4 separate regions of the Homo sapiens genome follow, and regions 2, 3 and 4 are each linked to region 1. The links come from fine-mapping of genetic effects on plasma protein levels. A gene starts in region 1. Each other region holds a variant in brackets. All regions are shown on one strand. Distances are between the middles of the regions.

Region 1 (8,201 bases):
CAGTGGATAAGAAACTGTGAACGATGAAATACTACTCAGACATAAAAAGGAATAAACTAATGGCATTCGCAGCAACCTGGATGGGATTGGAGACTATTATTCTAAGTGAAGTAACTCAGGAATGGAAAAACCAAACATCGTATGTTCTCACTCATAAGCAGGAGCTAAGCTATGAGGATGTAAAGGCATAAGAATGACACAATGGACTTTGGGGACTCAGGGGGAAAGGGTGCGAAGGGGGTGGGGGATTAAAGACTACAAATTGGGTTCAGTGTATACTGCTCAGATGATGGGTGCACCAAAATCTCACACATCATCACTAAAGAACTTACTCATCTGTTCCCCAAAAAACTGATGGGAATTTTTTTTAAAAAGAAACATATAGAGTGGCAGATGTTCCCAACCTCTGTATGTGAGAGAATGTCTTTGTTAAATTCACGGCAGAAAGATATTCTTATAAATACAGTCATAATGCAGTCACAAGGTGGCATCTTCCTCCTATCTCCACTGCCTGCCGCTGTGATTCACTGACACTGTGTTATAGTTTTGTTTTTAAAACAAAACATGACAACTAGCATGCGTGGAAACAGACATTTTTCCTGCCTCTGCTCCCATGACTGGACTTGATGCTTGGAATCTCAGGAGGATCTTTACCAGCACCACTCTGCTCTCTTCCTCAGTCCCTCTTCCATCTTTCCCCATATGCACGTTGCAACTTATCTGTTCACAGTATCAGCTTCAATGTAGAAAGATGGGTGCTGTGAAGGGAGGGTGTAGTTGGTGTCCTCGACTCAAGCAGAGGTCCCAGCGGGTAGACAGGATTGAGGTTCCATTCCTGATTGAACAAAATGTGGGACTCTGAATCACAGTTTAGGTGGTGAGAATTATATAATGCATGCCTCTTGCCCTAGCCCACCAACACACTTTTTTTTTTTCCAGAAGTCTTTATTTCATGAGATGAAGTCAGGAAGTCAGGGTAGGTTTTTTTTACACTTCAGCTCCATGTTGTCATTTCTATACCTTTAAGTTGCTTTTTCTTTTCCTCTTTTTTCTTTTTTTTTTTTGAGTCAGAGTTTCACTCTGTTGCCCAGGCTGGAGTGCAGTAGTGCGATCTAGGCTCACTGCAACCTCTGCCCCCTCAGTTCAATGGATCATCCTGCCTCAGCCTCCCGACTAGCTGGGACTTCAGGCATGTGTCACCATGCCCAGCTATTTTTTTTTTTTTTTTTTTTTGTATTTTTAGTAGAGACAGGGGTTCACCACGTTGGTCAGGCTGGTGTCGAACTGCTGACCTCAAATGATCCACCCGCCTCGGCCTCCTGAAGTGTTGGGATTACAGGCATGAGCCACTGTGCCCAGCCTTTCTAATCTTAATGTTTAGTCTAACAAGTTTTTGTCATCTTCTGCATCTATTACTGTGGTATAGGCCAGAGTTTCTCAACCTCACCACTATTGTCATTTGGGGCTAGATGATTCTTTGTTGTGGTGGCTGCCAGTGCATTGTAGGAGGTTTTGTTGCACCCCTTACTCCTATACACTAGATGCCAGTAGCACTGCCCCATCCCCCAAATGTCTCCAGACATTGCCTAAGGTTCCTGGGAGTGAGACATGCAAATCTCTCCCGCTGGGAACCACTGCTTTAGATTAGAGAGCAGAAGGGACTACAGGGCTCTGGGGAGCGGTGGCAAGACTTGGAGCAGCAGTCTTAATAACACTCAGGCAGGACTTCTCTGACTGATGTGTCCCCACTCTCTTACCATGAGGACAAGTAACATAGGCCTGACTGTTCATCCCGTTGGAGGTACACAATGCCAGAGTGCTGTTCTTAGGCGTTCACCCTTGGGGCATGTGTTAGAATTATCCAGAGAGCTTTGAATGTGTCTAGGCCTATGGCAGACATCTCAAAATATTATTAACTTGAGTTGGTGGGGTAAAAGTCTTTCTCAGGTTATAAATCCGAAGAAGAGACTAAATGTGGCATCCAAAAAGAAGCCAAACTGAGAGAAAAATTAAAGACCTAAGTAGTTTTTAATTTCCTTTTCCAAGCCTTTTTGAGACCAGCTGTACCCTCTGCCCTTTCCCTAGTTTAGTTATACTAACCAAAAAATCCCTTTTTGTTTAAATGAGGAGACATTAGGTGCCACTTACTTGCAGCAAGAGTTCTAAAGCAATTGAGTACCTCCTTGGTTTGTGTGGGGAACACAGGAGATGGCACACATTGCAGATGCCACGGTGCTTTGCACATAAAGGGCTTCATGATGTGTTTTAAATAACACAGAGTAGATGATATTTGGAAAAACTTTTTTTTTTTTAAAAAAGTCCCAGCTCAAATGAAGTCTTACTCATTCCCCAGGAAGAACGAGATCTTTCTCCTCCTTGCTCTTTCTTCTCTGCTTTTGCAGTCACCCTACTGCTTTGTAATTGTTTGCAAATCTATGTTCTTTTCTAATGTTCTTTGAACTTCTGGAGGACTGGAACTCAGTCTTATTCACCTTTAAATCCTCCGTATCTAACATGCCAGCACATAGCAGGTGGTCAATAAGTATTGTTAGGAAAATAATTTGAAGAACATTCATGATTAAAGGTGGCAATAAGAGCAACCAGCCAGCATTTATTGAGTACACGCTATGCTCCAAGCATTGTCCTAAGAATTTTACTTTTTTATGACTTAATCCTTATGACAGCCCTTAATATGTTATCGTTATTACTCCATTTTACAAATGAACAAACTGAGTCAAGGCTGTACAACTAATAAATGGCAGAGTCATGATTTCGTCCAGGAAAACTGATGCCAGAGCCCTAACATGTTACACAATACATTGTGATACTTGTCACTGAAAGTATTTTGTTAAATACAGACGGAGTTAAATCATTCACTATTAGAAACAGAGGAAACTGAGATCACTGAATTCCATCATGAAATAGATACTGATGCTGAGCCAAGGATTGGAAGTGACTCAGTTCAGGTGGTTTACATAACCGTAGGCTTACCTACACGGTGTTCCTGACTCCCAGCTGGAATCTTTTAACCAAAGGCCCCACCCTCATGCAAAGTGCACCTTTTCTTTACACGTGCGCTCTCCCCTTTGGAGGTCTTGCTTTGGAAAAACCACCCCAGGTAGCAACTTGTTTCAAAGCAGATATATGCCAGGTACCACTTAAAGCCAGGTGGATCTTATCTGTTGAAATAGATCAAGAACACATGAAAGGGGACTGGGGACCCCCTACTTACACTTCAGACTTCAGCACAAACTTTCTGTCCTCAGAGAAGGCTTCTCTGGCCTCTCCAAGGTCAAGTCTGTCTACCTAAGCTCTCCTTTATTTAGCATGGTCACTTGTAATTACATATATTTTGTATGTTAATATCTGGTTAATGGTCACCTCACTTGTTACCCTTTAAGTTCATTGAGGATAGAATCCCTGTCAATTTTTGTTCCTTATATTTGCAGTGCCTCACATAGTTCCTGGCACACAATGGGTATTCAAAAAATATTTGTTAAAATCAGGAAAGAATGAACAAACAGATGAATGAATAAATGCACGACTGAAGTACCATGACAAATCATTCCTGTGGAACGCATAAGGTTAGATGCAACTCCTTTATGGTGTGATCTGAGGGGGCCCTTAAGGGCTTAATCTGCACGCTCACACACACCACTGATTAGAAATCCCCATCAGGAAAATTGTACAATCATCTATTTGGCGAGGGCTTTGGGACACTGAATGGGGGAAAAGAAACACAAAAGGTGAGCAAGCAGTTTTCAAAGGATGCTTTCAACTCCCTGGCCAGTCCGCGTGTATGTTTTCGTCTACAAAGTGTTTCCAATTACTGTGGCACTCTCGGTATCTGGATCCATCTCCAGTGAATTCCTCTGCAGCTCCTGCCAGACATATGGGATCAATCAGGGCTTCGGCGCTGGTGCGCTTGCTGCGGGAATGTTGACAGCCTGACAGACGCGGGGTTCTGGTGTCATGGAATCTCCGAGCCTTTGGCTTGATCCCGGGAGGAGAATGAGAGGGGGAGGAGGGAGATAGAGTCACAGATACAGAAAGTAGACAGGAGCGGGGAGAGGGAGAGAGGGAGAGAAGGAGGGAAGCGGGAGATTTTTCTTGACTGCCCCCTTTCCTTCAAACATTTTATAGGCTTCAGGGAGAGAGAGGAGGAGGAGAGAGGGAAGAAAAAAAGAGGAGAGCGAGAGGGGTAGAGAGCGCGCGCCGTTCCCTCCGGAGTTCCCGAGCTGCTGAGGAGTCTGGATTGTGTCTGTCCCCAGTGTCAGATGAAAGGGCGCTGAGGCTCTTGGCCGCTGCCCCGCGCCCAGCTCCGCGCACGCCCCTCTGCGAGTCCGGCCGCCCAGCGCCTCTTCCCGCCCGAGCCGCCGCCTGCGCTCCGGGGCAGCCGCTCTGTCTCCAGCGCGATGTGGCCTCGCCTGGCCTTTTGTTGCTGGGGTCTGGCGCTCGTTTCGGGCTGGGCGACCTTTCAGCAGATGTCCCCGTCGCGCAATTTCAGCTTCCGCCTCTTCCCCGAGACCGCGCCCGGGGCCCCCGGGAGTATCCCCGCGCCGCCCGCTCCTGGCGACGAAGCGGCGGGGAGCAGAGTGGAGCGGCTGGGCCAGGCGTTCCGGCGACGCGTGCGGCTGCTGCGGGAGCTCAGCGAGCGCCTGGAGCTTGTCTTCCTGGTGGATGATTCGTCCAGCGTGGGCGAAGTCAACTTCCGCAGCGAGCTCATGTTCGTCCGCAAGCTGCTGTCCGACTTCCCCGTGGTGCCCACGGCCACGCGCGTGGCCATCGTGACCTTCTCGTCCAAGAACTACGTGGTGCCGCGCGTCGATTACATCTCCACCCGCCGCGCGCGCCAGCACAAGTGCGCGCTGCTCCTCCAAGAGATCCCTGCCATCTCCTACCGAGGTGGCGGCACCTACACCAAGGGCGCCTTCCAGCAAGCCGCGGTAAGGCGCCCGCCCCTCCCGACCCGGGCCCTAGTCCCCGGGCCCTTCGACCCACCGCTGCCTGCCCGTCTCTATCCCGGGGTTCAGTCCTGGGCAAGGCATAACCACCCCAAGTCAAGCGTCCCCATCCACAAAACCAGAGTCATCGCTACCCGCCTATTATTGTTGTGGAGGTTCCAATGGGATAATGGATTTTAAAACGCTTAGAGGGATGTCAGGCTCCTTAGATAGTCGGCTTCGAGGACCCTGTTAGGAAGGGATCCTTGAAACGCTAATCACATTCACGTTTGTAGGAGCAGACGGTATCCAAGCTGAAACAGGTGAGCATGGTTTACAAAGTGTTTCTAAAGGTAGGACATGGAGTGATATAAACCTAACCCCAATTCTTTTTAAAGTTATGTTATGCTTTCAATGTAAGATTCGTGCCCTTCCTATTTTTGCTCCAATCCTTTATTAGATTTTTAATATCTGGAAGAGGAAGTCAGTTTGGGATGTCGGACTTTTGTAAAGTGTGTCTGTTTTTCTGATTACAAATTAATCCATATTCAGTGGGGGAAAAAGAAACATATAGAAATATCTAACACATAATAGCAAGCCAGTGTTTGTGGACTGAATTAAACAAAAAGTAGGGAGAGGAAAAAAAAACCCTAAAATTTCATCACTTTAAAAAAGCCACTGTTTGCAGGTTGTTGAACAGTTGCCCAGTATGTACATCCATTCATACTTTTAATATCTTGCTGTTTTGTAGCCTACATTTTTCGTTTGTTATATCCTAATTAAAATGTTCTACATTAGCTGCATACTATTCCATTGCGTGCAACAATCACTTATTGTTGGACACTTAGGATTTTTCCTTACTAAGTTATCGTGAACATAAATATTTGTGGACTCCTCTGTTTACATCTTTAGGAAGAATTTCTATAAAAGTTCCTGAACTAAAGGTTATGAACATTTGTAACTTCTTGATACTATTGTCCATTTCTCCCTTGGAGGGTTGTATAAATTTATATTCTCATCAGCAGAGTATCTCAGCAGTAAATTTGCCACATATTCACCAATATCATACTATTCTTTTTAATATCTTTGTCAATTTAAGAGGTGATGGAGGCATCATTTTAGCAAATACACATTTTTGATTTTTGAGGATGAACATTTTCCAGTACATCTACTGGACATTTGTATTTTTTCCTCTGATATTTATAGTTTTTGCCCATTTTGCCATTATAGTGCTTGTTTGTTTTTTCTTAACACATTGGCTTGTTTTTTTTTCTTAATGATTTGCAAAAGTTCTTTATATAGTGAGGCCAGTAATTCTTTTGTGTATATGTTGCAAATGTTTTTCCAGTTCACTGCCTTTTATTTTTGTTTATGGAAATGTTGTTAGATGAATGGTTTACATTTTTATACACTCAAATCTATCAAACATTTTCCTTAAGATCCTATATTTGTTCATAGTTTTAGAATAGCTCTCTCATTTCCCAAATCAGAGAAATAGTTTTCCATGTAGCAGCTTAATCCATCTGGAATTTATTTTTGTGTATGATATGACAAAGAGGTCTAACTTGATTTTAAAAAATAAATAGTTAACCAGTTGTCCCAGCACTACTTGCTTAATAGCCATCTGTCCTTTTCCAATTTAATTGAATGTCATGTTTATCATGTGCTAAATGCTTATGGGTATTTGATCTCTTCCTGGCTTTCTATTTCATCCCATTCTCTATCTCATTTGTATCATTGCCAAAATGTTTTAACTATTGTAACTTTACAACATATTTAAATATCTGGTAGTGCAAATTCTCCTTTTAAAAAATCTATTCTTTTTCTAGTTAATTCTTACCCACTTATTATTTAATATGAATTTTAAATTCATTTTTACATATTACCAATGAAGTCAGTAAGGATTTTGATTTCAATATAGAAAATATTGAATTAACTTGGGGATTATATGTATTTTATAGTAATAATTCTTCCATTTCAAAAGTGTAAGACCTTATATTTTCTCAAAGTCTTAGAATAGCCTTCTCATTTCCCAAATCAGAGAAATAGTTTTCTATTTAGCAGTTTAATCCATCTGGAACTTACTTTTGTGCATAGTGTGACAAAGATGTCTAATTTTATTTTTTAAATGAATAAGCAGTTGTCCCAGCACTATTTGGTTCATATAATTTGCTTAATAGCATTTATGCATATTCTTTATACACATACATTTATACATCTTTAACAAAGTTGTAGATTTTTAGAAGTTAAGTCCTGTATATATTTTTCAAGTTTACATCTAAATATATTCTGTTCAATATTACTGTCATGAATAGCATCTTTTAAAATTAAATTTCAAACAACTTTTCTTGACGTATAGAAACACTGATTTTTAAAAATATGCCTTCTATATTTGGATTCTTGTTGAAGTCTCTTTGATTCTTTTTTTCTCTTTTTATATATATTTTATTTTACTGATAATAAATATTTATTGCAGAAAATAAAATAATCAGGAAAACTATTTCCTGAAAATATACCGTCATAGTTTGGTACATAGCTTCCTTGACTTTATTCAGTTGTCTAGGTAATAGGCATGTTTTCATACATATATTATGCCTAAATTATGTTTACCCAGGAAAAAGGATTCAATTGTACATCCTCTTGTAATTTGACTTTGTATTCCCACCATATATTTCAGTCTTCTTTCCAAAATAAGGAACATATTTCTACTATCATTATTTTTCAGGGTCACAGTTTTCCACTGTAGAATGTGCTTTTGTGTGTGAGTGTGTGTGTGTGTGTGTGTGTGAGACTACCTATTACTATGTATTTAGGCTGTTACAAACATTGTGTAACTAAATCTTTGTCCATATCTCTAATCATTTCCTTAAGGCAAATTCTTGAAGTGCCATTATTGCATCAAAGAATATTCATGTTTTTTTAAGACATTTAATACATGTGTCAAGTTGCTCTGCAGAAAATGGTGCCAACCTGCCCTCCACATGCAGCCCCAGTGTCAGGACCTGGGGTTCAGACCAGCCAGTGCTGGCTAATATCATTTGAAGATTCCATCCCCCACCCCCTAACTTTCTAAGTGAGAAATGGAGTCCCATTTTAAATTGCATTTCCCTATTAGTGAGGCTGAATATTTTAAAAACATGTTATTGTCCATATATAGCTCCTTTTTTTGAATACCCACTAAGATATTTGAGGATTATTATCCAGTTTTTAACTGGGGGTGGCTCTCTTATTGATTTGCAAATGCTCTTTAAATCTTAA
Region 2 (8,201 bases), 31 kb after region 1:
TCTCAGCTCTGACATGTCCTGTGCTGCCATCCTCTGAGATGCCCAGTTGTCTCATCAATAGTCATGATGGTCTTTGTTGGTCATCCGCATGTCTGTTGGTTAGTTTCATAACCTTTAATGCAGCTATCTCCTGCGGCTTCCAGGATCTCTTCCCATGGATATTGCCCAAGAGAGACACATCTCTTCTTGGCTCACAAGGTCTGTGGTGTCATCTACTGCCATACCTTTATTATTGCAAGACTCCTTCAGGTGTCTTAAAATTGCATTGATTCTTTCTCTGCTATACCTCTCTGGAATACATAAGCTTCTTCAGGTGCCCTCTCCTTTACCACCCAATGGAGTAGTTTTACTCTACTGCAGGGGGCCCCAGTACCCAGGCCGTGGACTGATGCTGATCCATGGCCTGTTAGGAACTGGGCCACACAACAGGAAGTGAGCAGTGGGCAAGTGAGCATTACCACCTGAGCTCTGCCTTCGGTCAGATCAGCGGCAGCATTAGATTCTCATAGGAGCGTGAACACTATTGTGAACTGTATGCGAGGGATCTAAGTTGTGCACTCTGTCCCTGTCTCCCATCACTCCCAGATGGGACCATCTAGTTGCAGGAAAACAAGTTGAGTGCTCCCACTGATTCTACATTATAGTGAGTTGTATAATTATTTTATTCTATATTATAGTGTAAAAATAATAGAAATAAAGTGCACAATAAATATAATGTGCTTGAATCATCCTGAAACTGTCCTCCAGCCCCATTCCACTCCATGGAAAAATTGTCTTCCAGGAAACTGGTCCCAGGTGCCAAAAAGTTTGGGGACTGGCCAGACGTGGTGGCTCATGTGGCAGGGCGTGGTGGCTCACGCCTGTAATCCCAGCACTTTGGGAGGCTGAGGCAGGTGGATCACGAGGTCAGGAGATCAAGACCATCCTGGCCAACATGATGAAACCCTGTTTCTACTACAAATACAAAAATTAGCTGGGCATGGTGGTATGTGCCTGTAGTCCCAGCTACTCGGGAGGCTGAGGCAGGAGAATCGCTTGAACCTGGGAGGCGGAGGTTGCAGTGAGCCGAGATCGCACCACTGCACTCCAGCCTGGGTGACAGAGTGAGACTCTGACTCAAAAAAAAAAAAAAAAAAAAAAAAAGGTTGGGTACCACTGCTCTATTGTCCGCTGTCATTATGACCAAGGGCACTTCTTTGGGATGTACCACCATCCCAGATATCCAGATGGAAAGAGGACCTGGGGACCTCTATGCCTAAAGGGAGGCTTGTCAATCATCTCTTCTGTGACAGAGTTAGGGGTGTGGAGAGAGTGTGGAGAGTTCAGGGTCTCACAGCAACATCTCACATTTCTCATTCTCCCCTAACTCTTTCCCTCTTCCTCTCCTCAGAGGTTTTTTCTTCTCTGGAGTGTGGAAAAATTTCACACTTACCAAGCATTCATTCCAAATCTTCCTGTCATTCATCAAGAGGGCAGCTTTTTAAACTTTAAGAGCCAAGAATTTTGAGAGTGTTGATTGGGCTTCTTGGTGTGTTTATTTGGGGAATGTCTCCAGTAACGTCCCGAATGCTACTCCGTCGCAGAAGCCACCCTCTGTGCCTGTCTTTGGTGTGGTCCCATCTGTACGATTTTCCTTGATCTCATTTGATTTTTGAGAAAGAGTGTGGTGAAATGTTTGAATACCTCTTCTCAAACTGCTGGCTTTCCAGATATTTCTGGAGGCATTGTTAGTTTCATTTAATTTTCCTTAAATTCAGGTTTAGCAGCTTTAGCTTTGCCTCACAAACACTAACTAAATTTAGGTAAGAATTATTGAATTGTAATGAATACCCACTGATTATATACTAATGAAGATTGCTTTCTACGGACATGAATCTCATAGTCTGAGAGAATCTGGATCTCATAGTCTGAGAGAATCTGGATCTTATAGTGAGTCTGCACCCTAAAGTGAATTGTATCAAACATTTTAAAAATCACAATATCTCCTTTTCACTTTAACACAACATAGGATGCAGTTGTCACTCTTCCTGCCTACCTTCTGAAAAACATGTAGTGTTTCTTGAATTCTTGCGGAATAAACATGAAGTTCTTTTTTAAAAATTAATTTATTTTTTAATAGGAATTTCTTCTAAGAACTTACCAGAAAATATACCCTGGTGCTTCTTTATCTTTTCTACTCATCTGTAGTGAAAAGCAACAACAGCAAATTGAATTAAATGCCAGATTCACCACTGGAGTTCTTGTGCCTTTATAGTCTGGTGTTACAAAGCATCAATGGCAATATATAAATGTCTTTTTAAAAGGTTTCATTTTTTAAAATTCTATCTGTAGAGAAGGAAGAGCATATATCATTGTAAAACAGAATTCACTTGTCCTAAAATAATAAAGTCCCAGTGTCAGATTTAGTGAATCAGTATTTCTGGATACCACCAAAACTAGCTATTTTTATGCTAGTACCGGGTGGTCCAAAAAGATGAAGTATTGAATCAATTCTACATTTTTTGGAGGAGCAAGTGGAAAAACAAATATAGGAAGCAGGTCAGCCATTATTGACTCTGGAAAAGACATGTTCTGTTAAATTTCCTTCCCATTAGGATTTTGGTGTATGACCATGCAGTGGTTTGGATAGAGATGATAGACAGATAGATAGATAGATAGATAGATAGATAGATAGATAGATAGATAGATAATTTGTGGAATTTGGATTCAGATTTTGTTCATATTTTGAGAGCCTGAGAATCAATAAAAATAATATAATAATAAGTGATAATATTGATTAAAAATTCATTCCATAAGTGTTTGTTGTACTTCATTAGCAAGCTCCATCAGCAATGTTGATGAGGATGATAGTTTTTAAATGCTTTTGAGGTTTATTGTGGCTCTGTGAGAAGATCATTGTAGGCTCTCATCTGTGCCTATTTCTGTTTTACTCTGACTAGGGCTTCCATCCCTCATGCCTGTGAAATACTAATGATCTTTGCAAGTACTGCCTTACGTAAGAAGAGAAGCACACAGTAGGCAAGACAGTACACACTCATATTAACTTTCCCCATTTCATTACAGCAAATTCTTCTTCATGCTAGAGAAAACTCAACAAAAGTTGTATTTCTCATCACTGATGGATATTCCAATGGGGGAGACCCTAGACCAATTGCAGCGTCACTGCGAGATTCAGGAGTGGAGATCTTCACTTTTGGCATATGGCAAGGGAACATT[C/G]GAGAGCTGAATGACATGGCTTCCACCCCAAAGGAGGAGCACTGTTACCTGCTACACAGTTTTGAAGAATTTGAGGCTTTAGCTCGCCGGGCATTGCATGAAGGTAATGGAAACCTAATGGCATCACAAAGGTACTTTTAAATGAGGCTTCCTTGCCTCTCACTGCTTGAAACCCATGGGAGGGTAATATCAAACTCTCACAAGGTCTTTGCTGAATATGATGCCCATGTGTCCTTTGGGCATCATGAAATGTGCTGAACTTCACAGAGATGACATTCTGACCTTGCAACAAGAGTTCCTTTTGTTTTTTTTCTTAGCAGCTGTTATGTGTTTTCACTAAAATATCCATATGCTCCCACCTTAGAATCAGTGGAATGAATTTAGGTGTGTTTTGAGGCCACACACAGAGTGGGAAGCCTTGACTTAGATCTCTTTACAGTTATCTGGACAGAGGAAGTAAACATTCAGAGACATGCTCAGTGAAACTTACCAGAATGTTTCCAGAAATACACATGAAGATACAGGAACAATAAATACTTAACACATACTTCTTGCCCTGACCATTTGAAGATAGATATGCTTATGTAAAAGCTTAAGAGCATTAACCCTAAAAGGGAAGGAAATCAGCAAATGTATCATTATTAGAGCTTTCTGTGCATCACTTATAATTTAATTATAAATTATAATTTAAAAATTAAATCATAATTATACATTATAATAAGTTAGCTGTGTAATATAAATTAAACTTCCTATCAGAATATAGGTTTATGTCTTAGTGAGCTAGGAGAAGAAAATACAGACTAGGAAGAAATCACAGGAAATCTAGCCTCAGATTAAAGTGATATGGCAAATTAGGCTTGATCCTTGCAGATATCCATGTGAAAGATTCAGTTTGAGGGGAAAACCATGGCAACATGAGTTCTAAGAAATTAGTGATGTTCATAATAAGTGGGTTAGCTCTACTGGAGTTTCTTTTTAAAAAAAATAAATAAATAAAGATGGTGTCTCGCTATGTTGCTCAGGCTGGTCTCAAACTCCTGGGCTCAAGCATTTCTCCCACCTGGGCCTCCCAAAGTGCTAGAATTACAGACATGAGCCACCATGCATAAAGCAAAAAAGATTTATCTCTCTGAGGGATGATGCTGGCCAAAGTTTTTGGAGGCTGGGATTTTAGTGAAGTGAGCAAGGACTTAGGACAGGGCTTAGAAGCAGCAAGAAACTGAGTATGGGAAATAAAGTATGGATTTGCGTTTAAACAGGTTTGGATCTAAGTTCCAGGCCTGCAACTTAATGAAATCTAATTTTTAAGAGCTAAGCCTTAAAAATCCAGAATGTCTGGATTTAAATCCCGATTTTGTTACCTACTAGCTGACGTTTTCTGTTTTTTTGTTTGTTTGTTTTGTTTTTACATATCATTCATCTTTTATATTCCTTAGGTTTCTTGTAAATAGAATAGGAAATGAGAATAGTACCTACTTCATAAAATTGTTACAAGGATTAAATGGGTTAATACATATAAAGGGATGAGAAAGTTCCTGATGGCTTGTTATACTCAGCACTCAATAACTGTCTACTATTACTGATATTTATTATTTATTAACAAATTATCATTATTAATTCCCCTAGGCAATTTATTTAACAACTATGAACCTCAGTTTTCTCTCCTTTAAAAATGGAAACTATTATTATATGTATCACAGAGGTTTTCAGGAGGATTAAATAAGATATTTAAAACATCACCAATATAGTATGTAGCACATGGAAGAAGTTCAGCAACTGGCTACCTTTATTTCTCCTTTTCTCCAAGGAAAGTGATATGTTAAGAGGGAAAACAGGGTGGTTGCAGTTGGAGATACTGGGTGTTGCCAGATGGGATTATGAAATTATGAGTGCTATCAACAAATTTCAGCTCCTGTCATCCCTCTGTCTTCTAGGAGTGGAGACTTCTGTCCTGATGGAAGTTGACCCAGAAACTAGAGTCAACAAGGAAAGGGTTTTGGTTATCATAATGCAATAGGGTTTTAGGAGACACCACATTTATTACACTAAACTAATATCTAAAATGTGTAATACTTTAGTTGAGTTTCTAGGTTTAGTAAGTAAAACCCTGTTTTTACTGGAAAGACATGATCAGATCAAAGGAAATGAGCCTCATTTCCCCTGCCTCTGTGTTCTCTGCAGCTACTTTCAATTTAGATGGATCCACTTTGGGTTTCACTGCTGTTCATGTTTCTGGCCATTCTCGATAGACATAGGTTACAGAATAATAGCTTTCCCCATTTGTACCTCCTCCACTTATCTCTCTTCCAGACCTGAATGCTGGTACACTAGTCTTGACAGCTATGTTTGTCTTTTCTTTTCTTCTCACCCTTTTTGATACAGGGTCTCATTCTGTCACACAGGCTATATAGTGCAGTGGTGTGATCACACCTCGCTGCAGCCTCCACCTCCCAGGCTCAAGTGATCCTCCCACCTCAGTCTTCCAAGTATCTGGGACAACAGGCATGTACCACCATGCCCAGCTAATTTTTTTAAAAATTGTTATTGTTTTTGTAGAGACAGGGTCTCACTGCATTACCCAGGCTGGACAAGTAGGTTTTCCTTGCTCCCTAACTTGCTTTACTGCCAAATAAACCTGTGGTCCAGTGTCTCAGAGCTGAGTCCTAAGGGCCTGTGTTACAGATCTTTTACCCACACCACAGTCTATTGGAAGGAGCTTACCAGGGTACCTGGTTGCACTGGTTTCTTTCCCTTGGGGCTGGAATCTTCCCTTTGCTTTGCCCCTATCTAGATGCATGGAGATGGATGTTCTATATTTGAGTCTACCACCAATCTCCTTCCAAGGTGTCCAATTGCAGCCCGTGTGTCTTGCTGGAACTCACCCACTTGAATTCCTACTATAAGCCCATCACAATATCTGGGCTTAGAGCCCCATGGACCTAGTATTGGAATTTAGTCTAAAACTTTCAAACTTCTTGAAAAGAATAAAGGACTTACTGTTTGTGTGATTCTAGGCCATCCATTCTGGGTCAATCATATTCAACCTTACCCACCCTGTCAAGTCACTTTCTAAACAGGTCTGCCTGAGTTATTGCATTCCCAGCATGCCTCACTTCAGAGCATGGCTCAAGTAATAAGAATGGTCTTTATTTACCTACTCAAATACCATAGAAGTGACAGTGTTTATTCCAAAGTTGGTGGCTCACAATTAACATCTCTGTGCAGTGATCAGGATGGTGGCTTTGTTTCTCATTGGAACAAGGATCTGGGGACTCGTTGCTGGGGCCTGACCTCACCCAGAGGCAGTGGAATGCTGCTGCTTTGGAAGCCAGGGGAATGACCTGCAGAACTGACTGCACTGTTTCCTGCAGCATCTGGAGATTCCTCACTACACTACTTAATTTCTGCCTGACCCTGAATGGCCTTGAGAACTTATGATGAGGTCCCAGACTGGAATAACTTAACTGGCTTCAACGAATTCCCAGAGCGCGCTAGTACAAATAACACACATTCGTATTTGGGTGGGAGCAGGAAGCAGTTGGGAATTAGAGGGATATGGAAAGATATTTTCTCCAGCTTGCACTTAAATTTTAATGACCAGAGAATGTAACATTGAACTGTGACTCATTTTTATCGCCCTCTGTCATATGTTATTTGTAGATCTACCTTCTGGGAGTTTTATTCAAGATGATATGGTCCACTGCTCATATCTTTGTGATGAAGGCAAGGACTGCTGTGACCGAATGGGAAGCTGCAAATGTGGGACACACACAGGCCATTTTGAGTGCATCTGTGAAAAGGGGTATTACGGGAAAGGTCTGCAGTATGAATGCACAGGTGAGTCTCCAATCTGTGTATATCAGTTGTCTGTTGCTGTGTAACAAATGATTCTAAAATGCAATGGCTATAAGGAATACATGCTTGTTATTGCTCATTAGTGTGTGGGGTCAGTGGCACATCTCTTTGGGGCTTCAGCTGTGCTGACTCATTTATTTGCCATCAGCGGTGAGTTGAGTAGGCTGCTGGCTGATCTCAGCTGGATTCTCTTATGTGTTTGGGTGTCTGACAATAGTCTGACCTAAAATGGCTTTGTCTAGGACAACAAGGCTGTCCTTTATGTGGCCTCTCATACTCCATCAGGCTAGCCCAGGCTTGTTCAGGTGGGGACGGCAGGGTTCCAAGAAGAAGAATGGAAGCTTGTAAGGCCCCTTGAAGCCTAGGTTCAGAACTGGGAGGAGAAAGATTTGGGGTCTTTGTAATTAGTCTAATAAAACAGCCAAATCTGTCCTCTAGGCATGTAAACCAAAATGTGCCTCAATCTCTCTATGAGATTGAAGCCAGTGGAATTCTTGTCCCCAGGCCACATGTAACTGGTAAGATTTACACATAAAAAAATGCATCCTTCACTTGATGGCTTTTTAAACTCTTCAGGAGCCTCCACAAAAGTGCATTGAAAAGTTCTAAAACTGCCATCACTTCGAAATGGAATTGGAATGACTACTATCAAAAAGACAAAAAATTACAAATGATGGCAAGGATGGAGAGAAAGAGGCACTCTTAAACACTGTTGGTGGGAATGTGAATTAGCATAGCCATTATGGAAAACAGTATGGAGGTTCCTCAAAAAACTAAAAAGAGAACTACCATATGATCCAGCAATCCCACTACTGGGCAGATATTCAAAGGAAAGGAATTCAGTATGTCAAAGAGATATTTGCATATGCATGTTTCTTGTACCACCATTCATAATAGCCAAGATATGGAATCAACCTCAGGGTCTATTCAATGGAAGAACAGATAAAGAAAATGTGGTCTATATACACAATGGAAGACTACTCAGCCATAAAAAAAGAATGAAATCCTATCATTCGTGGCAACGTGGGTGAGCCTGGAGTTGTTAAGTGAAACAAGTCAGGCACAGAAAGACAAACACCACATGTTCTCACTCATATGTGGAAATTTTTAAGATTTGATCTCGTAGAATT
Region 3 (8,201 bases), 150 kb after region 1:
TGGCCTATCTACCCCACTAGATAATAAGCTCCATAAGGCAGGGATTTTGTTTGTTTGGCTCACTGCTGTAACTCCAGCACCTAGAACAGTGTCTATGTGTTAGGCCATTTTGCATTGCTATAAAGAAATACCTGAGACTAGGTAATGTATAAAGAAAGGAGATTTAATTGGCTCACAGTTCTGCCGGCTGTACAGGAAGCATGGTGCTGGCACCTGCTCAGCTTCTGGGGAGGCCTCAAGGAGATTTTACTCATGGCAGAAGGCATCAAGAGTAGGCACATCACATGACAGAAGCAGGAGCAAGAGAGACAGTGGAGGGAGAGGTGCCACACACTTAACCAGATCTCACGAGAACTCACTCACCATTGCAAGGACAGCACCAAGCCATGAGGGATCTGCCCCTATGACCCAAACACCTCCCACAAGACCCCAATTCCAACATTGGGGATCACATTTCAACATGAGATTTGGGCAGGGACAAATATCCAAACTTTATCAGCGTCTAGTGGGTAAATGTTTTTTGAATAAATGAATTGCATGCCTACTGTGAGCCAGGCAATGTGCTAGACGCTGAGGGTTCAGGCTGCTGCTATCCCTAGGACACCCTCAGTCTGATGTTTGCATTCAGTAAAAATGTCATGCTTAACTGAACTGCTAGTTTAATACAAATAAAGTGTTCTTGGAGTATTTTGCTCTTAATGTCGTTGTCTTCTTCCTGGTCACCTTACAGGCATTAGCTGTGGGGTGCCACCTCCTTTGGAGAATGGCTTCCATTCAGCCGATGACTTCTATGCTGGCAGCACAGTAACCTACCAGTGCAACAATGGCTACTATCTATTGGGTGACTCAAGGATGTTCTGTACAGATAATGGGAGCTGGAACGGCGTTTCACCATCCTGCCTTGGTGAGATAAATGTTGGCAACTACTATATGAGATTATTCTAGCTCTGTAGATGACAGTCATCCCAAATTCCTGAGGTTCTTGAGGCATTGCTTTGTTAACTTTATCTCATCCCAGTAAGCTCTGGCCAAGCCATAGTGACAAAGCAGCTGTATGTAGAGGTGCCAGAAATGTTTTAAATTTTTATCAGGCTCCATATTAAGACTATATTTATATATCCCTGTCTTATACTTGCCCACCTATAAACTAGGGAAATAATAGCTTTTATTGTATATCTGCAATGTGATTATGACTGTTATATTTAAATTCTATACAAATATATGAAGTGTTGTGCATTACGTGATATGTAATGATTTAAAAGTAAAAACAGATGTTTGATACATACGGAAAAGGAATCAACTTTAATATTTATAAGCTGTCTTCATTTTAGATGTCGATGAGTGTGCAGTTGGATCAGATTGTAGTGAGCATGCTTCTTGCCTGAACGTAGATGGATCCTACATATGTTCATGTGTCCCACCGTACACAGGAGATGGGAAAAACTGTGCAGGTAACCAATATATGTAGAACTAAAAGTTCCTAATTCCATTCTTTTATTCAAGTACATATTTTAAGTGTATGTTATTTCTAAGTGAGATAATTGTTTCAACTTCAAAGGGCATACAGGTAGGCAGATAAGATAAAGTTCTTACAAAAGACACATCAGTAACAACTAAAAGTGCTTTAAAGTAGCATTGTGCCTCCCCCAACTTCCCAATTTCTCAGAAACAAAACTGACAGCCAACTATGATTCTACAATGTTGAAACGTCTACATAGTACAAGAATAATAGAGTGGATATAGAAATATAATCAGTGACATCCCTGCCTCAATCAGAGCAAGGAAGATGCTTTATCACATCTTCACTATCAATATCTTTCCTCTGCCTCAGTCACATAAAATTATATCATTGAAAAAAAATAGACATCTTGCCTCCCCAAGACATCTTGCACTACAATATTTTGAAATAGCTTTGATAATACCAGATCATCTCTCAACCCGTTGTTGTATTTCTTCATTTGTTGTGAAGAGTAACTCCTGGAAAACAATAAGATGTCTATATGAACACACCATATAAACAGTTCTTTATTTTAGTTATTTCATGTAATATTATATCAGGCACATTTTTGGTGTCACAAAATAGTTTGAGAGCAGGATTTTAATTCCTGTTTTATAATTCACTTTATGGATTTTCCATAAGTAACTTTTCTCTGTATGTTAATATTAGGTGATATTCACTATGGAAAACAGTTTAATAAGCATCTTTGGACATACATCTTTATGCTTACCTCTGGCTGTTTTCCTCAAAATCAGCTCATAATTGCATTTACTTTAAGAATTTGTTTAAACTCCTTGACTTATATAGCTCAAATGGCCTTTGAAAAGATTGATGCAATATATCCTCCCGTTTTGAGAATTCAAGTATTATATTCACTTTTCTTGCTCAACACTGGCCCAAACCTTGCTTTAGCTTTTTCTCCTTCCTATTATAGCAGTGGAGACCGACCCTGAATCTGTAGATAGGGAGAGCCCAGAGCCCATACTCTATTTGGGAAGGGAGGCTGGAAACTTTCCTGAATCTGCTTTATTCAGCCTTTCCATCAGCCTGACACCAAGTCAGTTGCTCTGAAAAACTGGGTATGAAGAGGGAACAGATGAAAGAGGCTAATGCCCTTCTAAGCCACTCTCTAGCACCACCACTACTTTCCCAATGAGCGCCTACCTTTGCAGCCAGAAAAATTATGTATATTGTTGTTAGGAATTGCTGTTTCAAACTATTATTGCTTAAATGCTTATTAAATGTATGTTCTGGTCTAATGTCCAATGTGTCTCTGGGCCCTCATGCATTTCCCTTCACGAGGTTTTCTCTTGCGATTTTAACAGGTTTCTTAACTATAGTGGAATTCTTTTGCTGTGAGACTTTGCATGGTTGTGTGAAAGCCACTTATTATTCCACCAAAACTGTCTGTTTCTAGAACCTATAAAATGTAAGGCTCCAGGAAATCCGGAAAATGGCCACTCCTCAGGTGAGATTTATACAGTAGGTGCCGAAGTCACATTTTCGTGTCAGGAAGGATACCAGTTGATGGGAGTAACCAAAATCACATGTTTGGAGTCTGGAGAATGGAATCATCTAATACCATATTGTAAAGGTATGTTTAGTAAATTTACCACGTTTCTTATGTTTGGCAATCCTAGAAAGGTAAGGCGTAGACATATGAAGTGTTATGTTGTATCAATGTTCTTTGTATTTGAACTGAGGTATTAGGCTCATGTTTAAACATGACCCCACACACACACACCAAAAAAAAAAAAAAAGAAAACAAACAAACAAAAAAAGATCTTGAGCTGCCCCTTGAAATTTCAAAGATTTTTGCACACAGTCTCAAAAAAGTCACGTGTTTGTTTTTCCTTTGTTAAGCTGTTTCATGTGGTAAACCGGCTATTCCAGAAAATGGTTGCATTGAGGAGTTAGCATTTACTTTTGGCAGCAAAGTGACATATAGGTAAGTATCTAAGATTAAAACTATATTGTAGAAGATGTTGATGGCATACTGGTAGTGATATAACACTGAAAGAAAGGGGGTGGGAAAATAATTGCAGAGGACATTTTTGAATTAATATGTAATTAATCGAATGATACATAGTGTGAACAAATCTTAATCCAATAATTTAATGGTAGTTATATCTAGAATCCTTAAATCCCCTGACCAATAATCTATCATTACCTCCAGTGCCCCCTTGAGGCACCCTGAGAGTGGATGCTCCTAGCTAATGAATACTCTTGATGTCTCAGAAACAGACTAGACCACACCACTCTCAAGCCAAGGATTCCCTGTTTGTAGTTACTAATCCATGACACAAACTGAAGGCAAGCCAAATTCTTAAATCTATCCTACTTCCCTATGGGGAAGATATACAGTATTCAATCTTGAAAAAAAAAATTAATTTAAAAGCATTATTTCAGTAGGAAAAAAAATCAACTTTTCCAATATGTATAAATTCTTAATATTTTTAGAGGTTTTTGGCACAGATAACGGCATGCAAAATAAAGCAAATTATATCCTGTAATTTTCCTCTATCTTCTTTAGGTGTAATAAAGGATATACTCTGGCCGGTGATAAAGAATCATCCTGTCTTGCTAACAGTTCTTGGAGTCATTCCCCTCCTGTGTGTGAACCAGTGAAGTGTTCTAGTCCGGAAAATATAAATAATGGAAAATATATTTTGAGTGGGCTTACCTACCTTTCTACTGCATCATATTCATGCGATACAGGATACAGGTAACATTTGTAGACACCAACCAAGCTTTCTACAATACTGTGTTACTCGCTCCCTATTTTATTTTAATTTTTTTGAGACATGGTCTCACTGTGACACTCAGGCTAGAGTGCAGTGGCGCAATCTCAGCTCACTGCAATCTCTGCCTCCCAGGCTCAAGCGATCCTCCCACTTCAGCCTCCTGAGTGCAGGGACTACAGGTGTGCGTCACTATGCCCAGCTAATTTTTGTATTTTGTACAGATGTGGGTTTCGCCATTTTGTCCAGACTAGTCTCGAACTCTTGAGCTCAAGCAATCCACCTGCCTCAACCTCCCAAAGTGCTGGAATTACAGGTGTGAGCCACCGTGCCTGTATTCTTTACTCAATAG[GT/T]TTCATTTGTACGTGACTGGCTGACTCTAAAAACAAATTTATAAATATGAGGATGTTCTCAAATCTGTATGCTTCCCGAGGCCTACCTAGCTAATGGTAAATGCCCAAGAAAATATTCTATCTAACTATGACTCTGAGAGTCCTAGTTCAATTGCTGTAAGCATTCAGACTTTAAACATGAAAGCAAAAATAGTTTATGAAGCATAAACAGAATACCCGATAAATGCTTTTGTGATGGATTTCTTTATAAACAGCTTACCAAACGTACTCAACATTGCATGGAATGTTATGAAAAAGCATGTCAAGATAAGGGGCTAGGTTCTTAACACTGTAGGAGATTAATGGTGTGTGTGTGTGTGTGTGTGTGTGTGTGTTTAAACAGAGGGGACAGTGGAGAAAGTCAGACTGTGATCAGAAACATGATCAACAGGATCTGAAGTGGAACAGATCGAGTGAAGAGAAAGTGGAGTGAATTAAAGCATGCTATCAGAATCAAGTTGAGAAGAAAGGCAGATAAGCCATGGCATAGGGATGTGAGGTTTAAGTCAAAGGAAGACCAGAGGTCAGAGTCAGGGGCAGCATGGTTCAAATGCCCAGGCTCATGGCCTGGACAGTTCCCTTTGACCTTAGTTGCCCTGATTTCCTGGCTACTTAGGTGAGTGTCTTTCTTCCTGCTGGATTCTAACCAGTCTAATGAACCCCTTCTCATCCAAGTAATCTGCTCTTCACAGGTCTGGAGTGCCTTACACCACTGCCCATAAGCAGATTCAATATTTTACTATGCACCAAGTGATTACTGTTGTTATATTGTTTTCACCCATTCATTGTTTCAAATGGTGTATAGCTTGTTTAGATTTCTCTTGCTTTCATATAAAGCAATCTAATATGAAGAAATGCTATTTTTGTGTACTCAAATTCCTCAAATGTCCCTTATTTTCTCCAGAGTTCTTCCTGTTTTATCTCCATAGCAGCAAATCCATAGCCAATGAAAGAGTAACATCATTCTTTCCCGCAGCTTACAGGGCCCTTCCATTATTGAATGCACGGCTTCTGGCATCTGGGACAGAGCGCCACCTGCCTGTCACCTCGTCTTCTGTGGAGAACCACCTGCCATCAAAGATGCTGTCATTACGGGGAATAACTTCACTTTCAGGAACACCGTCACTTACACTTGCAAAGAAGGGTGAGTAGGGCCTGTGAAGGAAAGGATCATTGAGAGCCAAGGAAGTGGATGCTCCTGACTGCAGAGATGGGCTCCATTGGACACGAAATTTAATTTCCTGGCAGCCAAAGACAAAGAGAGCCTTATGCTTTTATTTCCTACCTGCAGAGACGGAGTATATTCTCCTGTGGAAATAATATTTTCCTGGAATTTGAGTAGTATATCAAATTAGACCCTCAATAATGGACATTGGGCAATGCAGTGAAAAAATATCTTCATATTATACTTTTTTTTTTTTTTTTTTTTTTTGAGACAGAGTCTTGCTCTATCACCTTGCCCAGGCTGGAGTGCATTGGTATGAACTTGGCTTACTGCAATCTCCACCTCCCAGGTGCAAGCAATTCTCATGCCTCAGCCTCCCAAGTAGCTGGGACTACAGGCGCCTGCCACCACACCCGGCTACTTTTTGTATTTTTAGTAGAGACAGGGTTTCACCATGTTGCCCAGGCTAGTCTTGAACTCCTGACCTCAGGTGATCCACTTGCCTCAGCCTGAGATTACAGACATGAGCCACTGCACCCAGCCTTATATTGTACTACTAAGATGCAAAAAGTACCTTTAAGTGAGCGTTCGTGTATTTATATTCTGCAAAACCAAAGGCAAGACTTAAGTCATAACATAAAGATGACATATCTACAGGGAGGAAAAAAGATAATAAAGTTCAGGTTTTTACATTTCTAAGGATCTTATTTAATTCAGAGATCACCTCTGGAAACCAGGTAACAAATTACGAAGGGCTTTCAGACTCATTGTCTCATTTGATCTTAGCAAAAGCCCTGTGAGGGACAGTGAAGGGAAAGACTCCCTTTGGGATGATCAGTTTAGGGTCTCAATGCAACCAATAAAGTATGGAGGGGTGGCTAAATCTCAGGTCATCTGAGTTTCATTTCATTGCAATCATTGTTTTTTCTCTATGCATCCTCAATAAATATTTTCATCAATAGGGCTTTCACACTCCAGATTTACTACAGTTGTTCTTCACAAGCTGACACAGCAGAAAAGTTGCCATTTTCTGGATTTGTATCTCAACTCTGTTGTTCACTAACTGTGGGGCCTTAGGGAAATAGTGTGACCGCTCTGCCTTGATGGTCCTCCTGCATAAAATGAGTTCATACTTATGGATATTGTGAGAAATAAAATGATATAATACATGGCCTAACCAGAAAAAAAAAATCAATGAACCCAACAAACTTAGCCATTATTATGATGATTGGTGCAGTTTCTGTATTTTCATGGAAGTTGGATTTTACTTCACAGGAGTAGAAAACCATTCCACTAATACATGACTGCCAGCAGGTGGCAACAATATTTTCTTGCGAAAAGATAATAAGAGTTAAAGACTTGCATAAATAACTGAAGCCCAAATCTTAACATCTTCTTAAGTGAACAAGGAATCTTTAATATTAAAATGTCAATGCAGGAATGGCTTTTGATTGTCCCATCTATCCCCTGTGGACTCACTCACATAAGAAACTACCCCTAATGAACTGATAGGACTATTTAAAATTAGTCATTTAAATGTTTGTGAAATCTTAGCAAATATACATGTTCCAAACAATATCTAGATATTGACTATTGCTGGGGCTTTTTCTGATTTAAAAAGTAATGCATGATCACCATATACAACTAGAAAACACAAAATCTATATTTAAAAGTCATCCATGATTTTATTACCCAAAGACAAATATTGGTAATATTTTACTTCATTTCTTCCTAGAATTTTGTCTTTGCATGTATATTTGAATATTAAAGATGATGCTACATGTACAGATTTATACCTTTTCCTCTTCACAAATCATACACATCCTCACAAATTGTTCACTTAGAAGATATAGTAAGATGAGTTTTATGTCTGCCTAACGTTTATCTAAAAGTGATTTAAAGAATCAATTAAGACAATTATGAAAACGATTAAAAAATCTATTCATTTGAAGAGGATTTTTTATTTAGAGGAATTCTATGTGAATCATCTCATGTACTTCCTTCTACAAAGATGGAGTTTGGCAGAAGAAGTATTATTCCCACTTTATAGCTAAGACATGAAGGTGTTGGGCCACATTCTCTTACAGGCCCATTTGTTCTATGCAAGATCATAGTCTGTGGAAACTTTTTCTGTCATTGAAAAGATTGAATCAGATCTGCCCATCTAAATTATGTAATTGTTAAAGGGTATGAGACCATTTTTATAAAAGTGTGTTATATATATGAAGTATGATGTAAATATGGCTTTATTGTTTTCTGTATCATTATTAGCATATAAAGTGATGACATTTCAATAATATATGGGGAAGCTATCTGAGCTAGCTAATCAAATTAATATGAAGTACACATAGTCCCAAATCACTACCACGTGTAGTCTTTTTCTGAAAGGAAAAAAAAATAACTGT
Region 4 (8,201 bases), 72 kb after region 1:
GTTCATTGGTTTGTTTGTTGCTAAATCTGGCAACTTTACTCCCACCACATCCACTAGTCATTTTTTGGCAGAACACTTTGCTGAGGATTTGACTACTCCAAAACCCCACAAATCAGCTGGACCACTGGTTAAAGATTAGTTCTGTCTTCTGGTCTTTTCTTGGCATCCATATCCATAAGGGAGAACCACCTACTCATGACTCCAAGATCATTTGTGAATCCCAGGAGACATCTATGTTGGTACCAATTTATTAGGTACCAATACTGAACTCATCTATAAATGTAAATTGGCCTACATGGTATCCCCAAAAGACAAGGAAAACTGAAAACGATCAGCAGATTGAACAAAAGAGACCTGACAGAAAAGAAAGAAAAATGGAATCACTGAGATTCAAAGGCAACTACATTGCTAAAATAAGGCCAGGATTCCAAGCAATGAAAGAAATTTGAGAGGAAAAATATGTATTAGAAGTAAAAAAAAAAAAAAAAAAAAAAAAAAAAAAAAAAAAAAGGTACTGACACAATGAATGGACCTAGTTAGAAGTCAAATTAATAAATTAGAAAACTAACTCAAGAAATTCATTTGAAGGTCAATCAAAAAAATCCAAAAATAAAAATATGAAAGAATAAAGTAACATGAGAATAGTCACAGGAAATAGACTCTTTTCACGTGAGGAATCCAGAGAGAGAACAGAATGGAGGAGATGCACCAGTAGAAGATCTAAAGATATATCCCTGAGCTGAAATTTTGAAAATACTCACAACCCAAATCTTGGATATTCAGTTTAAAATCACTTAGTAAGTGCCACAAAAAAAATATTAAAAACAGATTTATGTCGGGAAATAATCTTAGTGAATTTTCTGAATGCCCTAGAAAAACAGAAAACTGTGTCCATTTCATAGTTAGAAACAACACTACCTACCAAGGAGAAAGAATCAGATTAGCCTTAGGCCCCTTTGTTGGCCATTCTCAATGTTAGAAAATAAGACTGTGTTGCCAGGATTCTGAGGGAAAAGAATAGACCCTAGATTTCTAAACTCAGGCAAGCTACTGTTCATGTGTGAAGGCAAAGGAAAGACATTTTCAGTCATGCAGCCTCAAGTGGTAAAAAGCCACATACCATTACTGAAAAAATGAATCCTTGAAAGCTTGTAAAATATATTTTCGTGAAGTCAATAGTTCTAAGTTCTGTGTAAAATCTTTACCCCTTCTTCCAAATACCTTACGGTAGAGGATGGGAAATATTACATTTTAACTTGCCACTCAGTAGCCTTCCAAAGAGGAGTGAGAAAATCAGAGAAGACTGCCCTTTCAGGATAAGGTCTGGCCCCTGCCTCTCAAGCCTGCACCCTCCATAATCAAGCCTCGCGTCTGATCCTAAAGCTGTAAGAAATAGCCATGCTCTCTCAGGAAGCCGGCCCTTTGAAGCTGTTCCCACAGCCTGGCTCTGCCTTTGCTCTGGGTCCTCTCAACCCTCCACTGTTGCCAACTTCCTCCTCCTGAATGGGGTGACCTCTACACGTGCATCTGTGCATCTGCAGACCTGCCCCCACCCCTCATTATGTTTCTTATGCTATGTGTCAGGGTCAGTCAAGGAAGCACAGTCACCATGCATGTTATGGGATGAAGGATTTATTTCAGGGAATAGAGCTTACACAATTTTAGAAGGAGCTTGGAAACAGAAGAGGAGTGGGAGGATCAGAGGAGTTCTTGACAAGTCAACTTGAGAGGCTACCCAGCTTTTGAAGTGGAATTGCTAAGGAGAAACTCATGGAAGGTCTAAGAGAAGCTTTACCTCTGTGTAGTTATGCCCCTGTGGCTCTGCAGCCAAGAACCTTGCAATGAACATGGGGCCACCACTGGTCATGGGATCAGCAGTGAGGACGTGGAATGGAGGCAAGCAAGGGCAAGCTGGAACCCCCTGGGCATCACTGCATTTTTCTATCACTGACTCTGATGACAATGACCACTTCCTCACTTCTGCCTTCCAAAATCAAGTGCAAGTTCCTCTTTTGATCAACCCTAACTTGGAACCACAATAAAGGGATTCTGGCAAACATATTTCCCAATGTAACTAACTTGTCACAATACAAAGCATCACACTTTTATTGGTAATTAACTTGTCTACCTCCTCTGCTAAACCAAATTCATTATGAGCACAGAATTTATTTCTGCCCCTCAATCATTGATGATATCTCTGGTGAATGAATGGAAACTTGAAGTTAACAAATACACATATCGATAAATGTATACGTTGATGTACATTGATAACTACAGTATATACATTGATGACCTGCTTCTGTCACTTCATATTAAAAACCATGCATGGGTGTGATGGCACAAGCTTGTAATCCCAGCTACTTAGGAGACTGAGGCAGCAGGGTCACTTGAACACAGGAGTTGGAGGCTGCAGTGAGCCATCATCACACAACTGTACTCCAGCGTGGGTGATAGATTGAGACCTTGACTACAAAAAAGCATGCTTGTTCTCTTTTATGTAATTTCAATTGCAATTCCAATATAAATAAAATAATTTAAAGCAGAGTAAGGAGAGATGCTACAATTCAACTTCACCACCAAAGCTACAGCTAACTTACCAGTATACAAAGTTGTACTGAATGAAGGTACTTACCCAGGCCCTTACACTTTCACTAATGCTCAGTGTATTTAGTTACATCAGATATTGTTCTATGAAACGCATACCATATTTCACTAAATCTGAAACACATGCCATATTTCACTAAATCTGAAACACATTTTTTAAAACATTTTAACATCTCTAAAATGGAGATGCATCTTAAAATCAGTTGCAGCAAACCCTTTAATTGGCATTATTGTTTCTTTGTTAGTGGCACATAAAATAATGTTGTGTCTTACAATGGGGATTCAATGAAATATGGCCGTTGGGTAGGATTTCATGTCTGTTTCATGGTGGGTAGTATGGAGAAAGTAGTATATTTTTACAGATTTAATTATAAGAACAGTGAATAATTTTAGTTATATTATACTTTCTCAAAAATATGTGTAAGATTGAGGCAGAAATGAAAGACCTGCATAAAATCTAAAGCCTTTTACAAATATCATGTTACATTGTTAATGTTTTTGTGGATGTTGACTAATAATTGGTAAACTTGATTCTCACTTCTCCTATGCACTTTTCATAAAGCACTTATACTCATTTTCAGTTTTATCTGAATTCTGCATTTCTTTCTTTCTTTTTTTTTTTTTTTTTTTT[TTTG/G]AGATGGAGTCTCGCTCTGTTACCTAGGCTGGAGTGCAGTGGCACGATCTCGGCTCACTGCAAGCTCCGTCTCCTGGGTTCACGCCATTCTCCTGCCTCAGCCTCCCGAGTAGCTGGGACTACAGGCACCCGCCACCATGCCCGGCTAATTTTTTGTATTTTTAGTAGAGACGGGGTTTCACCATGTTCGCCAGGATGGTCTCAATCTCCTGACCTCATGATCCACCCGCCTCAGCCTCCCAAAGTGCCGGGATTACAGGCGTGAGCCACCGCACCCGGCCAGAATTCTGCATTTCTTTCTAAACAGGAAAGGATTCTTTTGTGGTTTCTCAATCTTAACTAACTAAACCTGAGTAAAAAGGTTCAACCAATGAGAACCTTACATTTAACATCAGATTTATTTTATTTTCAGTAATAGATATCACAATTTGGAGACTAATAGGAAGCACGTGCCTGGAAAAAAAAAAATCTGATTAGTCTTTAAGATGGGAACCAGAGTAGCTTCTTATATTGTCTACTACAAGTAGACTTTTCTCTTAAAAGTCTAAGTTGCTATTTTCTAAAAAGACCAAATAAATATTTAGGAATTGTGATAACATAAATGTAAGTCAAGAAATATTAATTGCAGGATTTTTCGGCATGTTGAAATGAAAAAAATATAAGTTGAAAATTCTTTAAGAAGTGTGTACCTATTAAAATGGTATTAAGTGTTCATTCTTGAGTGAAATGTTTAAGGAATAAATAGGAATTATTGCATATGTTTTGTTTTCAGTGGGGAGCAATGGAAGTTTATTAATACCAACATCTGAGAAGCAGTATAATTTGCATCTATATGAGGCACCGACTCTAATTTATTATCAGTAATAAATCCATTTTGTCTCAGGTTAGGAAAGCTGGAGTCATCTTGGCAGTTTGTTGAAGCCAAAACATTGTTTAATATGGTTTTCCAAATTTTATACATCAGAATTTATCTGATTCACCTTTTAATCCCACCTCATACTTTGCCTTGGGATACACATGAAGGACACACTCAATAAAAGTCAAAATGCAGAAGACAAGATGTTTCATGCACTTGATAGACACAATAAAGATTCTATTTGCATAAATGGGCACATTCAGGAAAAATTAAAACACGGAAGGCAAAATGTTTCGGATCATTTTTTATTAATACTTGACTTTGGTCCAAGCCATTCCAGGGATAAAAGAGGCTAGGGTTTATGATCTAATCTCTAATCTAACTCTTGCATTTTCTCTAAGGAGTAATGGATCCTAAACTTTTATTTAATGCACACAATACTTATGCTCTGCTGATTAATATAATTTGAATGGGTTCATTGTAGAATAAATTCAAACAGTGACTTCAATTGAATATGCACTTGAACATTTTGCCCCCAGCTTCCTTTCCTGGTATTTTAAGGTTGTCTTTGACGTAACTAAATGTATGCATGGTATGAACAATTGGCAAATGCAGAAAAGTAGAAGAAGAAAAAATATATCCCACCCGGAGTCTCAACAAAATTCTTGAGTCCCAAATGTTTTGTTCAAAAATCTTTAGAGATTGTTATAAGAGCTCTCTGAGAGGAAACTGAACTTTATTCTTTTGTAGGGGTTATTTCTGTCTTTTGTACGATGTCCAATGCTTGTAGGTTCTATCTATAATCTATCAAGATGAATATACGTCCCCATCATTTGGCATATTTAACAGGCACCGACTCTTTTTTCCTCTCCAATCTCTGTTCGTGAATGGAATGTGCATGCCTTCTGACTGAGAGTGCATTTTCCATGGGTCTTGACAGCTTCCCCATCTTCCTCTTTCTTTTCCCTATTTATTCTTTCCCCTACCCCTACTCCTTTCCTGCTCTGACTTCCCCTTCCCCTCACCCTGCTCTTCCTCTTCTCCTCTCCTCTCCTCTTCATCTCCTCCACCTATGTTTCCCCTCCCTTTCTCTTTCCTTTCTTCTCCCCTCCCTTCTTCACGACTTTTCCTTTCTCCTTTACGCTCCTCCCTCCTTCCCCTGCTTGGAAACCCTGATTGGAGAGAGTCTAAGTTAGAACTAGAGGACAAGAAGTGTAGGACAAGATTATAAACTCTTTCAAGAGGGTTTTCTCTAAAGAGGAGACTACGGAAGATGATAGATCAGAGGCTCCTGGAGGGTGTGGGAACTGATGGATTGAAGCACTTGAAGGAGTGATCCCAGAAGGTAAGAGGTGATTGTCAGAGACTAGGAAACTTGGATTGGTGACAGCGAGGTCTAGAGGGCATGGCAATGGTAGAAGCTGAGATAAGGTGAAGGATATGATCATTAGAAAAGAAGAGATCATTCTGTAGGTTGCCTGTTTACTCTGATGAAAGTTTCTTTTGCTGTGCAGAAGCTCTTTAGTTTAATTAGGTCCCATTTGTCAATTTTGGCTTTTGTTGCCATTGCTTTTGGTGTTTTAGTCATGAGGTCTTTGCCCATGCCTATGTCCTGAGTGGTACTGCCTAGGTTTTCTTCTAGGGTTCACGATAGCAAAGACTTGGAACCAACCCAAATGCCCATTAATGATAGACTGGATACAGAAATTGTGGCACATATGCACCATGAAATACTATGCAGCCATAGAAAAGGATGAGTTCATGTCCTTTGCAGGGACATGGATGAAGCTGGAAACCATCATTCTCAGCAAACTAACACAAGAACAGAAAACCAAACACTGCATGTTCTCACTCATAAGAGGGAGTTAAACAATGAGAATATATGGACACAGGGAGGGGAACATCACACACTGGAGCCTGTCAGAGGGTTGGGGACTAGGGGAGGGATAACATTAGGAGAAATACTTAATGTAGATGACAGGTTGATGGGTACAGCAAACCACCATAACATGTGTATACCTATGTAACACACCTGCATGTTCTGCACCTGTACCCCAGAACTTAAAAGTATAATAAAAAAAAAAAGAGAGAAAAGAAAATAAGAGATCAGGAATATAACTCCAGGATACTGGAATGATCATTTACATAGATAAGGAAGTCACTAAGGTGTGGGTATATGTGTGTGTGAGAGAAAGAGAGAGAGAAAAAAGAGAAAGGAGAGAGAGAGAGAATTTAAAAAAGGTTATTGGATATATAATATGATACTTCAAAGGAGCTGGAAGTTTTTAGGAAGGAAGGAGAGAGAATGATCTGGGAAGACAATCAGGAGCAACAGAGACACCTCCTCACCTCCAGTCCCTGTTACAGAAGACAATATAATTTTTATTAGGGCAATCAAGTGAAGGAAAAGTTGCTCAAAAGGAAGTTTAGGATATGAGGGGATTAACTGAAACCATCGTTATTCTAGGGGGCAGGTCCAAGGGTCTATGGGGATAGATTTGGAACACAGCTACATGTGGATAACCCTGGTGGATGAGGGATAACTATAGAGCCTTGGACTTTCTAAGTGATTGCCATCAACAGGAATAGAGGGCATGATGAAATCAATGGAAATGGACTCTAACATACATTGTTGGGTTTGAGTGGGCAGTTGGAGACTCTTACCAGGAAAACTCAGAACACAGACATCGTTGGGGAACCTGCAGAGGCTGGAACAGTGTGAGTGCTCTCTGGTAGCTTCTCTGATGTAATGTTGAGGACAGAGACTCAAAGGTGGCAGAACCGCGGAAATGCAGGTTTCTCTGGATAACTCGTGGCACTTTTTCTGATGGTGATGTTGAGGCTGGCTGAGGTACGGGGGCGTTTTCAGCATCCGCAGTTTAGTGAATATCCTTCCTACTGCTTTCTCATGGTGAATTCAAAGAAGATGAAGAAAACCATGTCACAAGTTGTGCCTGCTCACTTCTCTGGCCGGGGAAATGTGCTCCTAGATAACATGCTCTACCCCGAGCACGTTTGGAGCACACACACATCCCATGATCCAAGAAAGGGGGAAGATCTTTCCCTAAAAAATTAACAAAGGAAGAGTTAATGGATGCTGGGCAGATGGAATTAGAAATTGTGTATAGCTGGTATCAAGGACCCAAATGCTGGGCAGAAGGAATTAGAAATTGTGTATAGCTGGTATCAAGGACCCAAATGCTGGGCAGAAGGAATTAGAAATTGTGTATAGCTGGTATCAGGGACCCAAATAACAATGTGTTAAGCCAATTAAGGCTTCATTTTTCTTTTAACTAAAACAAGGACAGAAGTAGGTAATCCAAAGTTGGTGTAATAGCTCCACTGTCATCAGAGAGCCAGACTTCCTATGTTTTTTGCTATACCATCATGGTGCATGATATGTTCCCACAGTATCATATACTTATACTCTAGTATGCTGGGCTACCATTCCTCATGTCTGTATTGTGGAAGAAAAGGAGAAGGAAGCAGGGAAGGGAAAGAAGTACTCTCTCAATTGAGACAGCCCCCTTTAAAAAGCTTTCCAAGGGCGGGTGCGGTGGCTCACGCCTGTAATCCCAGCACTTTGGGAGGCCGAGGCTGGCGGATCACAAGGTCAGGAGATCAAGACCATCCTGGCTAACACAATTAAACCCCATCTCTAATAAAAAAATTCAAAAAAAAAAATAGCCGGGCGTGGTAGAGGGCGCCTGTAGTCCCAGCTACTCGGGAGGCTGAGGCAGGAGAATGGCGTGAACCCAGGAGGTGGAGCTTGCAGTAAGCTGAGATCACGCCACTGCACTTCAGCCTGGGCAGCAGAGTGAGACTCCATCTCAAAAACAAAAAACAAAACAAAATAAAATAAAATAAAATAAAATAAAATAAAAAAATAAAAAGCTTTCCAGAAGTCCTGCTCAATCTCAGCTATATATTATGGGCTCTCATTAGTTGAGGTAGAGGTGGAGAGTTGTAATCTTTTAGCTGGGCATATTACTATGCTTAATAAAACTGGTGAGAATGGCTATTGGGTGGGCAACTATAAGCCTCTACCACAGCAGCAAAAATAAACTGATGTTAATGCATAAGTCAAGATTCGTATCATGAGCTATG

What was found. PIP is the posterior inclusion probability: the model's chance that the variant is causal. Sun 2018 read protein levels with aptamers (SomaScan).
Region 2: its variant is fine-mapped to the plasma level of the SVEP1 protein (Sun 2018, PIP 0.95). The variant lies in the coding sequence of SVEP1. If it changes the protein, the assay may bind it differently, which can mimic a change of level.
Region 3: its variant is fine-mapped to the plasma level of the SVEP1 protein (Sun 2018, PIP 0.95).
Region 4: its variant is fine-mapped to the plasma level of the SVEP1 protein (Sun 2018, PIP 0.95).

What each region holds. Positions count from the first base shown.
Region 1 is chr9:110,575,758-110,583,958 of GRCh38, reverse strand. It overlaps SVEP1 (sushi, von Willebrand factor type A, EGF and pentraxin domain containing 1), which reads left to right and starts at 4,218. Exons shown (of 48, transcript NM_153366.4): 1 at 4,218-4,946. The coding sequence starts at 4,416. RefSeq lists enhancers at 4,350-4,850, 4,851-5,351.
Region 2 is chr9:110,544,967-110,553,167 of GRCh38, reverse strand. It overlaps SVEP1 (sushi, von Willebrand factor type A, EGF and pentraxin domain containing 1), which reads left to right. Exons shown (of 48, transcript NM_153366.4): 2 at 3,064-3,319; 3 at 6,877-7,053. Among named protein-coding and RNA genes, the nearest start is that of SVEP1, 31 kb to the left of the region's middle. The variant C/G (reference allele first, on the strand shown) is at 3,217.
Region 3 is chr9:110,425,165-110,433,365 of GRCh38, reverse strand. SVEP1 (sushi, von Willebrand factor type A, EGF and pentraxin domain containing 1) reads left to right here. Exons shown (of 48, transcript NM_153366.4): 31 at 731-904; 32 at 1,332-1,451; 33 at 2,916-3,092; 34 at 3,362-3,446; 35 at 4,032-4,223; 36 at 5,608-5,775. Among named protein-coding and RNA genes, the nearest start is that of TXNDC8, 91 kb to the right of the region's middle. The variant GT/T (reference allele first, on the strand shown) is at 4,592.
Region 4 is chr9:110,503,798-110,511,998 of GRCh38, reverse strand. The region is part of intron 5 of SVEP1 (sushi, von Willebrand factor type A, EGF and pentraxin domain containing 1); the gene reads left to right. Among named protein-coding and RNA genes, the nearest start is that of SVEP1, 72 kb to the left of the region's middle. The variant TTTG/G (reference allele first, on the strand shown) is at 3,236.